4 linked regions of the Homo sapiens genome follow. The protein of the gene in region 2 purifies or fractionates together with the protein of the main gene of each other region. This does not show direct contact. Each region holds a gene or a part of one and is shown on either strand. Other genes may lie near its edges.

Evidence for each region. Proteins that work in one complex are often made in the same cells at the same time.
Region 1: the proteins of SLC22A23 (region 2) and SQLE purify together in Homo sapiens (affinity purification with mass spectrometry; one large-scale study listed by BioGRID and IntAct). This does not show direct contact.
Region 3: the proteins of SLC22A23 (region 2) and ABCB10 purify together in Homo sapiens (affinity purification with mass spectrometry; one large-scale study listed by BioGRID and IntAct). This does not show direct contact.
Region 4: the proteins of SLC22A23 (region 2) and TAX1BP1 purify together in Homo sapiens (affinity purification with mass spectrometry; 2 studies listed by BioGRID and IntAct, with this or other methods). This does not show direct contact.

What each region holds. Positions count from the first base shown.
Region 1 is NC_000008.11:125,005,005-125,008,504, reverse strand, and holds part of SQLE (squalene monooxygenase), read right to left. Parts: intron 2,981-3,500; coding exon 2,800-2,980; intron 1,115-2,799; coding exon 1,018-1,114; intron 1-1,017. UniProt on the Homo sapiens protein: Catalyzes the stereospecific oxidation of squalene to (S)-2,3-epoxysqualene, and is considered to be a rate-limiting enzyme in steroid biosynthesis.
Region 2 is NC_000006.12:3,447,051-3,450,550, forward strand, and holds part of SLC22A23 (solute carrier family 22 member 23), read right to left. Parts: intron 1-3,500.
Region 3 is NC_000001.11:229,541,708-229,545,207, forward strand, and holds part of ABCB10 (ATP-binding cassette sub-family B member 10, mitochondrial), read right to left. Parts: intron 665-3,500; coding exon 530-664; intron 1-529.
Region 4 is NC_000007.14:27,792,162-27,795,661, reverse strand, and holds part of TAX1BP1 (tax1-binding protein 1), read right to left. Parts: coding exon 3,432-3,500; intron 2,597-3,431; coding exon 2,450-2,596; intron 1,340-2,449; coding exon 1,216-1,339; intron 1-1,215.

The DNA.
Region 1 (3,500 bases), on a different chromosome or scaffold from region 2:
ACATTCCAGTCACCTTCATTAGAGGACAATTTCTAAGAGGTGGTAACCCTATGGGGAGCAGTCCAGAATTACATGTTTTTTACTACGATAATTTTTTTTTAAAAAAAGGAAAAATTGGCCGGGTGCGGTGGCTCACGCCTGTAATCCCAGCACTTTGGGAGGCTGAGGTGGGCAGATCACCTGAGGCTGGAAGTTCAAGAGCAGCCTGACCAACATGGAGAAACCCCGTCTCTATTAAAAATACAAAATTAGCCGGATGCGGTGAAGCATGCCTGTAATCCCAGCTACTCAGGAGGCTGAGGCAGGAGAATCGCTTGAACCTGGGAGGTGGAGGTTGCAGTGAGCCGAGATCGCACCATTGCACTCCAGCCTGGGCAACAAGAGTGAAACTCCGTCTCAAAAAATAAAACAAAATAAAATAAAATAAAATAAAAGGATAAATTGTTTTTAAAAAGATTCTCTTACTATTACCTGAGTTAAATTGCTCATTTTATCTGAATCATTTCTTTTATGTTGAATCTTGCCTTCTTTCCCCTGCTAGTTCCCCTCTGCTTCTCTGCTGATGTATATTACTGTTTCAAAAACTATTCACATTAGTTCTGTTTAAAATGTTTTTTGCATAGCATTCTGAAGTCCTCTAAAGAACAATGTGTTGCAATCTGAAACCCATCCTGTTGCATATGGCTTAGAAAGAACTCAGTTCATTTGATAAATAACACAGGCTGAGTATCTCTAATCCAAAAATCTGAAATCCAAAACTTTTTGAGCAGTAATGTGACAAACAAAATACTCATTAGATCATTTCAAATTTCAGATTTTCAGATTAGAGATGCTCAACTGGTAAGTATAATGCAAACATCTGAAAAAAATAAAAAATCTGAAACACTTCTGATCCCTAGCATTTCAGATAAGAGATACTCAACATGTAAACCGGTAAGCCTACTTTTTTAAAGGGGTAAGTGAAAAAGCAGGAAAAACAACATCTCTTAGGAAGAGGTGACATTTGGTATTTCTCACCTTGATATCTCCAGTCTCTTTATCCTTGTACTGAACTCCCATCACAACATCATCTTCCTCTAATAACTGTAACACAACACCTTCAATAAACTTTGCACTAAAGAATAAAAAAAAATACATTTCTAAAGCAGCACATTTCAGCAATTTAAATTAAATATAAATTCCTTATCTCCAGTTTATCCATATAAACTGGACATGCATGTGTGTGCAAACACGTGTCCAATGTGTGTTTTTTATTTTCTAATTTATCAACATTTAATACATATTACTAATGATTACATTAGTAATCATTAGTAATCATTAAATATTTTAAAAATATTTTAAAAAGTAACATTGGATTTTCATCTTAATTTGTTAAAAATAAATTAATTTGTTAAAAAATAAAATATAGGCAGAGAAACTTTACATACCCTCATACATTCATACACAGAGGGGAAAACAAGTATTGGAATGCATCCTGCAAACTGTTAAGAGTAATTATTTCTGGCAGGGCACGGTGGCTCACACCTGTAATCCCAGAACTTTGGGAGGCCAAGGTGGGCGGATCACAAGGTCAGGAGATCAAGGCCATCCTGGCCAACATGGTGAAACCCCGTCTCTACTAAAAATACAAAAATTTGCCAGGCGTGGTGGCATGTGCCTGTAATCCCAGCTACTCGGGAGGCTGAGGCAGGAGAATTGCTTGAACTCGGGAGGCAGAGGTTGCAGTGAGCCGAGATTGCAACACTGCCCTCCAGCCCGGGTGACAGAGCGAGACTCAGTCTCAAAAAAAAGAAAGAGTAATTATTTCTAGTCAGAAAGATCACAGGTAATTTTTATAATCTTTATATTTGGGACTATTTTTCCATTTTCTTTTTTTTTTTTTTTGAGACCAAGTCTCGCTCTGTCGCCCAGGCTGGAGTGCAGTGGCGCTATCTCGGCTCACTGCAACCTCCACCTCCTGGGTTCAAGCAATTCTCCTGCCTTAGCCTCCCAAGTAGCTGGGACTGCAGGTGCGTGCTACCACGCCTGGCTAATTTTTTCTTATTTTTAGTAGAGACGGGGTTTCACCATATTGGCCAGGCTGGTTTTGAACTCCTGACCTCGTGATCTGCCCACCTCAGCCTCCCAAAGTGCTGGGATTACAGGCATGAGCCACCGCACCTGGCCGATTTTTCCATTTTCATACAGTGAACATACTCTTCTTCCATGGATATCAAGTCTTTTTAGTCCAAAGGATTAAGTCCACTTGCTTCTTCACTTGCTTTGTCAATACTTTAGTCTGTGTCAGTCACATGAGGGTTCTCACGCTTAAAACTTCTTCAATTAGTGTTTTAAAGGTTACTGGTAAATATAAGTTAATAAACAAGAGAAGAAGCCAGTCCTAACAGACTGGGTCTTTAGTGAGAATGAAACAGGGATTTCTCCTTGCAGTTTTGTATCCTGACTTCTAATAGAAAGTATCGTAACCACAAACTCAAACTCCAAAATGTGCACAAATGGACTTATGCCTTAGTTACAAATATATCCTCTAAATTCCCGTCACATAAAAATTATGTAATTTTCATTTAGTCAAAGGAGAACTCTTCATAGTTCCATGTCAAAGGAAAATTCTCTATATGATATTCTTAACAAAAGCACTGAATATCTAACACTCTTTTGACTGACAGTTTATTTTAATATACATATGTTCTAGACTATGCCCCAAAAATTCATTAAAATTTATAAAATCTTATTTGTACAAAGGTCAAATTTAAATGCATTGATTCTTTAGTAATTATATATTTGAAACTGTGGTCTTACTTGGGCTCTGCCATAGCTGCTTTCCGGAGACTCATGATGAATCTTCCGTGATGGAAAGCTCTTCCACTCTGCACTTGATTGTTTTCTGACAGAGGGTAAGGAATCTGAACCTCTGATTTGCTTTCCTGATCATGAATCATGTAACCATTTACAACCTGGGCATCAAGACCTTCCACTGTATCTGCAAAGCAATCGAGTTCAAAACAATCAATTCTGTTAACACACCCAGCGTTAAACTAAGAACCAAAGAAGACACACACACATCAAAAATGAGTCTCTGCCTTCAAATCTGGAGAACTGAACAAAACTAATGTAACTATTTCAGAAACTGTGAATGCTTCTGGAAGTCAATGAGAGTCTTAGCAAATCTGTAATATCATTTAAAGATAACAACATAACTATTTCAGGTCTGTAATTCCACTTCAACTTCAGAAAGAAAATGCAACATGAAATAAACCATAATCCTCTCCTGAGTAAACCTGTTCTGCCATAAAGACATAGGAACACATTTAGTCCTTCTTAACACTTCTTTCAATGTATGAATATGTAGATTTGTCACCAAAAAGAAATAAAAATAAAATAAAACCAGTATGGAAACTCAAAAAAAAACCCCAATTTATATATAATGACTGAATATATGAAAAAGTAGATTTTCCAAACCAAATGGAAAGGGTAGAGTTATCCCCCAACTGTTGATGATT
Region 2 (3,500 bases):
TCTGACTGCATCATATCCCTTATCCCACTTAATACTCTTTAATGGTTTTCCTTTGCTCTAAAATTAGAGGAAAAGTTCTTAGCACGGTTTATAAGCCATCGCCACCCCCCATTCCCATATCAATTGCTATCAATTCCAGGCCCTACACACCACAGGGCCTTTGCAAGTGCCATTTGCTGTCTCTGGAAAACACACACATCTCTCCTCTTTTGCCTCTCTCTCTACCTCCTACTCAAACCTCAGCTCTCATCTCAGATGTCACTTTCTTACATAGACCAGTCTGTCTAGGTCAGGGTTTTGTTGTTGTTGTTCTAGTCTCTCAATTCCCTTTCTTTCTACACGCTTAACTCACTTTGTAATGAAAAGATTATTACTTGATCAGTTTGGGTGTGCCTTCCCCAGAAGTCTCTAAGCTCTATGGAAGCTGAGCTGTCTACTTTCACATATCATTGTATCCCCAACACATAGCACAATGCTCAGCTCAGAACAGGCACTCAAATCTGTGAAAAGGAGGAGAGAGGAAAGAAACTTTCTTTTTTTTTTTTTTTTTTTGTCTGAGACAGAGTCTTGCTCTGTTGCCCAGGCTGGAGTGCAGTGGTGCAATCTCGGCTCACTGCAAGCTCCGCCTCCCGGGTTCACGCCATTCTCCTGCCTCAGCCTCCCAAGTAGCTGGGACTACAGGTGCCCGCCACCACACCTGGATAATTATTTGTATTTTTAGTAGAGATGGGGTTTCACTGTGTTAGTCAGTATGGTCTCCATCTCCTGACCTCATGATCCACCCACCTCGGCCTCCCAAAGTGCTGGGATTACAGGCATGAGCTACCATGCCTGGCCTCTCTCTCTCTTTTTTTTTTTTTTTTTTTGAGATAGATGGAGTCTCACTCTGTTGCCCAGACTGGAGTGCAATGGCGCAATCTTGGCTCACTGCAACCTCTGCCTCCTGGGTTCAAGCGATTCTCCTGCCTCAGCCTCCTGAGTAGCTGGGATTACAGGCACCCACCACCATGCCCAGCTAATTTTTGTATATTTAGTAGAGGCGGGGTTTCACCATGTCGGTCAGGCTGGTCTTGAACTCCTGACCTCAGGTGATCCACCTCCCTCGGCCTCCCGAAGTGCTGGGATTACAGGCGTGAGCCACCGCGCCCGGCCAAAAAAATTTTTTCAAGTGGTCCAGGGTCACACTCATTAGTGTGATAAATGTTTAACAACCGGCTCTATGAAGAAAAAAAACCCTGATCTCCACTGTTTGCCAATTCCTATGGTGTAAATGCTCCCACCATGGTGAATTTCAAGCTGCCAGCATGACATTACTGAATGTGAAGTTGGATAGACACGTGCAGCAGGCTCAGAGTCAATAGAAGCCAAGCTGGCTCCCACACACCACCAGTTTGTGGCAACCTCAGGACAAAGATTCAGAAAGTCCACCATGTTTTTTTGTTTTTTGTTTTTTGTTTTTTGAGACGGAGCCTGGCTCTGTCCCCCAGACAGTTAGTGCAGTGTTGTGATCTCCGCTCACTGCAAGCTCCGCCTCCCGAGTTCACGCCATTCTCCTGCCTCAGCCTCCCGAGTAGCTGGGACTACAGGCGCCCGCCACCACGCCCTCCTAATTTTTTTGTATGTTTAGTAGAGACGGGGTTTCACCACGTTGGCCAGGATGGTCTTGAACTCCTGACCTCGTGATCCGCCCACCTCGGCCTCCCAAAGTGCTGGGATTACAGGCGTGAGCAACCGCGCCCAGCCCCCACCATGTTTTTAAATGACACCAACTTTCGACTCAATCCTATCTTGGACTAAAGGCCAAAGTAAAGGCACCTGCAGAAAATGTTGCTACAGAGAGGCAGAGGGAGACGGAGAGGGAGAGGGAGAGATCTGCAGATGGTTCAGAACAGGAAGATGAAGAAGGAAAGGGAGACCTGTGACCTGGGAAGACAGCTATCTCCCAAACGGAGGTGGAAAGGCTGCTTAACAGCTGGCTAGCCTCTAATCCTTACATTAATAAGGGCCACTGCCAAACTAAATGTTTAGGACGTTGTTACAAGCAAGTCAACGTCTGCATGAAATGCTGGTTATATCCTCTGACCTTTCTAGCAATTTATCCTAATAGCTCAGAAAAGCAAAACAGGTATCTCCAACCCCAAAATAAAGAAGTTATAAGATCATAAAAATGTTAGAAGAAAACATAGGATTTCCCCCCAGTCTTCCAGGAATCTTCCAAGCCTTAAAGCTAACATAAGAAATCATAAAAAAGAAGATTAATTCATACAACTCTAACCAAACCATACGTTTCTACATAACAAAAATATCATGTACAAAATTTAAAAAACCAAACAGCAAACTCGAGGAAAATGGTTACAAGTCATCCAGAAGGGTTAATTTACATCATACATAAAGTGTACCTATAAATACATAAGAAAATAATGCTTCTCACAGCATATACACACACATAAAGGCAAAGGAAATGAAGAGACTGTTCAAAGAACAGGAAATATGGATGGCTCAAAAACTTTCAAAAAGATGTTTAACTTCCTTCATAACAAGAGAAATGCAAGTCACAACCACCACCAAATACAATTTTTTGCACATCAAACTAGAAAATATGTAAAGATTTGATAATCCCCTGGGTCAGGGAGGGTGTAGGGAACAGAACCACACATATTATTAGTATAATTGTGCATAGCTAAGATTTCTACAGAAAACACTCTGACAGTATTAACATAAAAATGCAGCCTACTTTCACCCTCCCACTTCTAAAAATTTCTTACACGTGTGCAAATGTCTGTGCATGCCAAGATTTCGTGATATATTGTGAATATAACAGCAAAGACTGGAGACAAACTTAATGCTTCCTCGGTAAGTGATTAGTTAAATAAATGGCAGTCCAGTCTGACAATGGAATACTATGCAGACATAAAAAAGAATGAGTATCTCTATGTACTGATGTATTCATCTCCAGCATAAGTGAAAAAACAGTGTTTCGGATACGCTAGTGTTTCTGAGACAAAATATGTAAATGAAAGTAGAACATTTCTGGAAGGGGATGTGAGAAACTGGTAACCATGGTTGCTTCTGAAGAGGGAAACTGGGGGCAGAGACAGAAAGAAATGTTACTTTTATGCTATGCTTTCTGTACAATGTACATGTATTACCTACTATAGTCAATTTTTAAAAATAGATATGCATGAAGATATCCACTGTTGTTGCATATACTAGACAAAAGCCACCACTGGGATGACCTCATGGTAGTCAGTTCAGTATTTTATTATTTTTTTTTGAGACGGAGTCTCGCTCTGTTGCTCAGGCTGGAGTGCAGTGGAGTGATCTCGGCTCACCGCAACCTCCGCCTCCCAGGTTCAAGCGATTCTCCTACCTCAGCCTCCCGAGTAGCTGGGAATACAGACGTAAACCACCATGCCCGGCTAATTTTTGTATTTTTAGTAGAGATGGGGTTTCACTATGTTGGCCAGGCTGGTCTGGAACTCCTGACCTCGTGATCCGCC
Region 3 (3,500 bases), on a different chromosome or scaffold from region 2:
GGTGGGAGGATTACTTGAGCCCAGGAATTTGAAACCAGCCTGGGCAACACAGTAAGATCATGTCTCTACAAAAAATTTTAAAAATTAGTGGGCATGGTGGCATGGGGCGATAGTCCCAGCTACTAAGGAGGCTGAGGTGGGAGATCACTCGAGCCTGGGAGGTTAAAGCTTCACTAAGCTGTGATTGTACCACTGCGCTCCAGCCTAGAGTGCATGAAAAAACTTTTCTCATGTACCTTGTCTCAAAAAAAAAAAACAAAAAAAAAAAGAAAGAAAAGAAATAGTGATAGTAACAAGTGAGGACTCCATAAAATGTTTAGTGAAGTTAGATCTACTTTGAGATATGGGTAGAAATCTAGTCTAGAAAACAGAGTAGTTTAAGTTTCATGGATCTTGGGGTAATTTCTAATGAAAGGAAAGGCAGGCACTTCATTGAAAAACCTAAGTACATCCCTTAGGATCTGCCCTCTAGGATCCTGGCTATGACCCCATTCTGCTGGAAACCACGCGGACAGGAAGGGGCCTTTACCTGAGTGGCTTGTGCCAGGGAATCCTGAGTGACTTTGGTCAGTTTCCGTAGATATCGCCCATAAATTACAGCAATGATTGACACTGGAGGCACCACGCTCAAAACAAAGGTGGCCAGATTAGGTGAGACAAAAAACTGTCAAAAACAAAAAAAAATTCAGAGGTGTTTGTTACATTGGGTGGCAAGACATTCTCATTACCTACGAAAGGGGAGTGTGTGTGTGGGTGTGTCTGTGTGTGTGTGTGTTTAAATTAACAGCAGGCTTGAAGGTACTGTCCCCAAGTTGTTACATCCTGTTTTGATGGAATTTTTCAGACATCTTTATTCTTCACAAAACCCCATAAATATTCAGCATGCCACATAGAAGAAATGTGACAAGAAATTGCTGAAGAAAGAATCCTCAGGCCAATACTAGATCAGACCACGCGGTTTAACAACAGAGTGGGAAGAGACAGGATGGGGGTTTGGCAGAGGCCCATTCTGCTCCACGCTCCAGTCCACCTCAGGAGTTGTATATTCAGGTCTGAACCACCTGCAGGCACTGAACAACCACAGCAACACGTCCCATCAAAATGACCAAGATGGTGAAGTCACCAAAAAACCCCATTATCGGGTGGGGTGTGGTGGCTCACGCCTGTAATCTCAGTACTTTGGGAGGCCGAGGCGGGCAGATCACCTGAGGTCAGGAGTTCGAGACCAGCCTGACCAACGTGGTGAAACCCCATCTCTACTAAAAATACAAAAATTAGCTGGGTGTTGGGGCACGTGCCTGTAATCCCAGCTACTCGGGAGGCTGAGGAAGGAGAATCGCTTGAACCCGGGAGGTGGAGGTTGCAGTGAGCCAAGATTGAGCCACTGCACTCCGCCTGGGCAACAAGAGCAAAACTCCATCTCAAAAAAAAAAAAAAAAAAAACAGCACATTGCATAACAGTCAACAGAGGACTTGGAGGACACAACTAACAAGTCGAAGAAGAATTAGAGCTGCTTTTATGGCTCAGTGGACTGAAGTCAGCAGGATGGATCTGGGCTCAATATACTGAGGAGCTTCTAGCAATTGGAATTGCTGAAAGAATAACCTAACTTCTGGAAGTAAGTAACAGAGGGTTTTCCTGTCAACATTGCAATTTGGTGATTGTACTTTCAATAGTACTGGCATCTCTTCGACAAATTACTAAAATCTACCATATCTCATTTGCACAGAAAATAGTATAATCAGTACACGGCTAAATAATACTAAGGAAAAACTGCAAACTGAAACATAAGTGGATGGATCAACCAATCATTCACTCATTCATTTACTCATTCAACAAGTTATTACTGAGAGCCCACGTTACTGAGTGCAAGCACTATTCCAGGCACCTGGGAGATAACCAACCCTCACAGAGTTTTCATGCAAGAAAGAAGAGGTGAGACTTAGATAATAAACAAGTAAAAGAAAGAGAAAGTATCACTGCAGATGTAACACAATCTTGGAAGACCTCTCCCCCAAGAGGGAAGAGCCATTGCATAAAGGCCCTGAGGCAGAAAGGAGGTTGGCACCTTCACAGAGGAGCAAGCAGATGTGCATAGGAATGTCCCACCCTGAGAAGACAAGTCCATCAGGACACCTGGGGTGAGTCTTGGGGAACATAATCATATCTCTGATGGTCACCATCAGGACATGAGACCAACAGGGCAGGTCTAACACTTCTGGGGCCTGAACACAACTGATGTCAAAATGAACCAACTGGACAGGTGTCCTCTGTGTAGGGCAGGCACAGTCCATCAAGATTCTCCTAGAACTGTCCAGAACCACCCCCCTCCCTTCACTCTGGTTCCACACTTAATGAAAAACCTTCTGATGACTAATACAGGGTGCTGGCACCATAATGAAGTGTTTTGAATAGCAGAAATGGGCTAGGCATAGTGGCTCACGTCTGTAATCCTAGCATTTCGGGAGGCTGAGGCAGGCGGATCGCTTGAGCCCAGGAGTTCAAAACCAGTGGGCTGGGCAACATGGTGAGACACTGTCTCTATAAAAAATACAAAAATTAGCCGGGCATGGTGGCGCACGCCTGTGGTTCCAGCTACTCAGGAGGCTGACGTGGGAGGATCACTCGAGCTCGGGAGGCAGAGGTTGCAGTGAGCCAAGATGACACCACTGCACTACAGCCTAGGCAACAGGGTGAGACCTTCTCTCAAAAAAAAAAAAAAAAAAAAAAAAAGGAATAGCAGAAACACAACTTAATGGTGGGTAGGCCCACTATGTAAATTAATAAATTGGCAGTATGCCATACACAATATCAGGTTCTCATAACTGGACTTCCCCTATGTCAGGTCCATGAGTTTGTGCAGGAGAAACAAAGTCACATTTCTGATCCCCTAGAGCCAAAGATCAGATCCTAGGTGAAGCCACTTCCTGAGGCCCTTTTACAGACTGAATGGAAATTCCCCCTGAAATTCACATGTTGAAGCCTTAATCCCCACCATGGCTGTATTTGGAGATGGGGCCTCTAAGAAAGTAACTAAGGTTAAATGAGGTCGTTAAGTGTGGGGCCATGATCCAATAGGATTAGTGTCCTTATAAGAGACACTAGAGCACACTCTCTCTCCACTATGTGAGCACATGGCAAGATGGCAGCTGCCTACCAGCCAAGAGAAAAGGCCTCAGAATGAAGCTATTTTGCTAGCACCTTGACCCTGGACTTCTAACCTCCAGAATTGTGAGAAATACATTTCTGTTGTTTCAGCCAAGCCACAAGAAAAGGCCTCAGAATGAAACTATTTTGCTAGCACCTTGACCCTGGACTTCTAACCTCCAGAATTGTGAGAAATACATTTCTGTTGTTTCAGCCACCCAGTCTGTGGTATTATTATGGCATCCCAAACAGACCCCTTTGAATTGCTCATCTGACCTACACTGAATTCCCTTTCCTTGTTACAAAAAGTACCCCAAGTGATTTTTCCCAGCTTGAACTCTTCCTGATCCCC
Region 4 (3,500 bases), on a different chromosome or scaffold from region 2:
AGAATTGCTTGAACCCAGAAGGCAGAGGCTGCAGGGAGCTGAGATCACGCCACTGCACTCCAGCCTGGGGGACAGAGTGAGACTCTGTCTCAAAAACAAAACAAAACAAAATTTGCTAAAAAGAGTTCCATAACAGCACAAAAATTGTTCTCCTTATATAACTGAATAGACAGGGTAAGTAGGAAAACCATACTCTGAGAATTCTCTTTCCCCTCTCTGAAAGCCAGGGTCTCACTATGTTGCCCAGGCTAGCCTCAAACTCTTGAGCTCAAGTGATCCTCTTGCCACAGCTTCCAGAGTAGCTAGGAGTACAAGCGCATGCCACCATACCCCACCAAGAACACATTTTAAATCATTCTTCTAGCCCTTCATTACCACTAAGTCTTTATTAAGTAAATACCCTATAACACCATTTTAGGTACTACAGAGGATACATGGAAACAGAAGGCTCAATTCTGTCCTACAGGGGATAAACCTAATATTTAATAGTCTAAGATGTTTACATTTAAAAAGACTTAAAAGATCAATTACTACACACACTAAACAAGAAAATATACTTTCTCTAGTATTTAACGTCATTACTGTCAAATTTACATAAAAGTGAAAAAATCAGGACAGATGAAAACCTAGTTAATCCAAGTTTTCATGTTATTAATGTTCTCACTATGTCTCTCTATTCTGTTCTATAAGTTAATAAACTAATAAAAACTTAACTCATCAGCCAACAGGTACATTGACAAGGGAAGAAGTACCCCCATTGATCCAAAGCAGCCAAAAATAAATGAATAAATAGAAAAATATGAGAATAATAGGGGATTTTTTCCCCTGCAGAATTTAAAAATTAAAATCCACAAATAAAATGCTTCAAAATTCCATAGATTTAATGGAACATAAAGTAAAAATTCAATTCGTGGCTTTTGTCCTATGTAGCCCAAATGAGTACTCACAAGCACCAGCTCATTTTTAACATGTGTGAATAGTCTCAAGAAGATAACTACTAGTTTACATTCACATTTTATATGTTCATGTTGTGTATATTCACCACTTGCATGACTCTATTTTACATTTATACCCTTATTTTCTTGTTGCCTCAATTCCTTCACTTATCACATGAAAATTTTTATGAACATCCTGAAATTCTAACACATGGAAGAAGGCAGTATAAGTACTTTTCAATGTAGGACACCCTACACAAAAAGTCTAAAAGATTTTTACCTGCAGAAGGTGATGGCTTTACATCTACAGTAGAGGCAGAAGTGGCTGGGTCTGTGTTTACTGAAGCATCATTCACTTTCTGCTGATTCCCCGTTTTCTTTGTGAAGACATTATTATTATTAGCCTATTCAAAATGTTAATAAGTTGTTAAATGAGTCAATGAATTAGTTATATTTCCTCCTTGCAGTAACTAAGTAAATAATATTTTTACATATTACTTTAGGAAATCCTAAGAAGTCCACAAAGCTGCTCTTGTTTTAAAAGCCAACAAAGACTAAAGTTATACACATCATTTTGCTAACTGACCTAAATGTTGCAAAAGAAATATACTATATTTTGCTTTTTCTTATAAACTCATCAAAAGACCACCAAAATAAGTCATTCACAGAAATCTACTACAAAGTTATAACGTACTCAAAAGGCCCCAGGCCAAATTCATACATGTGAGTGAGTCATACTTAAAGTATCATATTTTTTCACAAAAGCCTTCCTACTTTACTACATGCATTCCTTGCTTGTCTCCTCTGATTTAAAAAAGTAGGACCAGGAAAGTATCATATGCATCACATAGTAAAAGAGAGCTATAGTACCACTTTCAATTTCAGGTTTTAAATATGTTTCTTCTACATTTCCAGGAGTTCCTCAGATAGTAAGCCTTGTATTTAAGCACAGTTTAAGGACCCACATTGAAACATACATACCTCAAAACAAAAACATCTTCTTTGGTATATTACAAATCTACCTACCTATTCTCAAATGGAATAAAAAAGAATTAGCTAACACTCTTTAACTGTTCCTAATCTAATAGGAATAGGAATCTTCATAATATGAGTATGAAGAACTTGCCAATTACAACTGAGACACCATCTAAGACCTAGGGATGATTAATGGTGAACTCCAATGAGGATAGATGTCATGGTCACAAGAGTCAATAATAAGTATTGAGTTTTGAGTGACAGATATTTATCAAGAACTTAAGAGGGAAATTATCTAGAAAAGAAGACTTTTTTCTGTTTTTTCCTTGCTACTGCCCTTGCTTCCTTTGTTGGCTGTCCAGTAAATTAAAATTCCAGACTTTTTTAAAGAAGAGTTATTACAATATTTGGCCAATGACTTGAAATCAAGCAGAGATAAATAATATTTAAAAGGTTGATATTTGGAATATTACAAATTTGATTTTCGAACAAAAATACTAACAACACATTTTACTATGTGTAAATTTAATGATACTTACTGATTGATCTGAAAGTTTGTTTATTTGTTTTTGGAGCCTTTGGCATTCCTTAAATTTTTCTTTATAATGGTCTGCAGCCATCTGAAGACGGAGTTTCAGATCTTCAACTTCTCTTCTTAGTTCGTGTTCCAGTGTATCAGTCTTGTCCTAGAAAGAAACAAACATTTGAAGAAAAAAATAAAAATCTGATACCTCCTAATGTTAATAGTAACCCCAACTTCAATCTTACTTTTTTTCTTTTTTTTGTTTTTGAGACAGAGTCTTGCTCTGTCACCCAGGCTGAAACACAGTGGCCCAATTATGGCTCACTGCAGCCTTGACCTCCTGGCTCAAGCAATCCTCTTGTCTCAGCCTTTGGACTAGCTGGGACTACAGCTGCACACCACCACACCTGGGTAATTTTTGAAAATTTTTGTAGAGATGAGGTCTCACTATGTTGCCCGGGCTGGTCTTGAATTCCTGGGATCAAGCGATCTTCCCACCTCAGCCCCCCAAAGTGCTGAGGTTATAGGTGTGAGCAACTGTCCCCGGCCACTTTTTTATTTTGGGATTTTGGCTACAGAGCAACATAGGGTCTCTTGTTAAGTCCAGTTTTACATTCTTAGGACTAAGGTTCATTTAAAAAACTAGAGAAAAATAATCCACCTCCTGAAGAGCAATTATTACTCCCTTAAACAACCATAATACTGTTTTATACAGCTAGTAAGAAATTCCAAACAAAACAATACATATCTGACATCAATATATTTAATCAATAGGGCAGCTTTCACCAACCATTAAGAATTCTGCTTACAGAAGTTTTCCTTACAGCACACATTAACTGTAAGCCAAGAAGTCACAATGACTAAACAAAAGGAATGAAAATTTTAAATTTAAAATAAGGCAGAAATCTGACCTGTCTTATCTTAACACAATTTACTACTTTGTGAGATTATAGTGGTTTCTTAAATCAAAATGCAAATTCAAAATTAACTTGTTTTACCTGATCTTTTTTCATAGCATTTAGTTTAAGTTCTGCCACTGCATCAGCTAACTGCTTTTTCACTTTCTC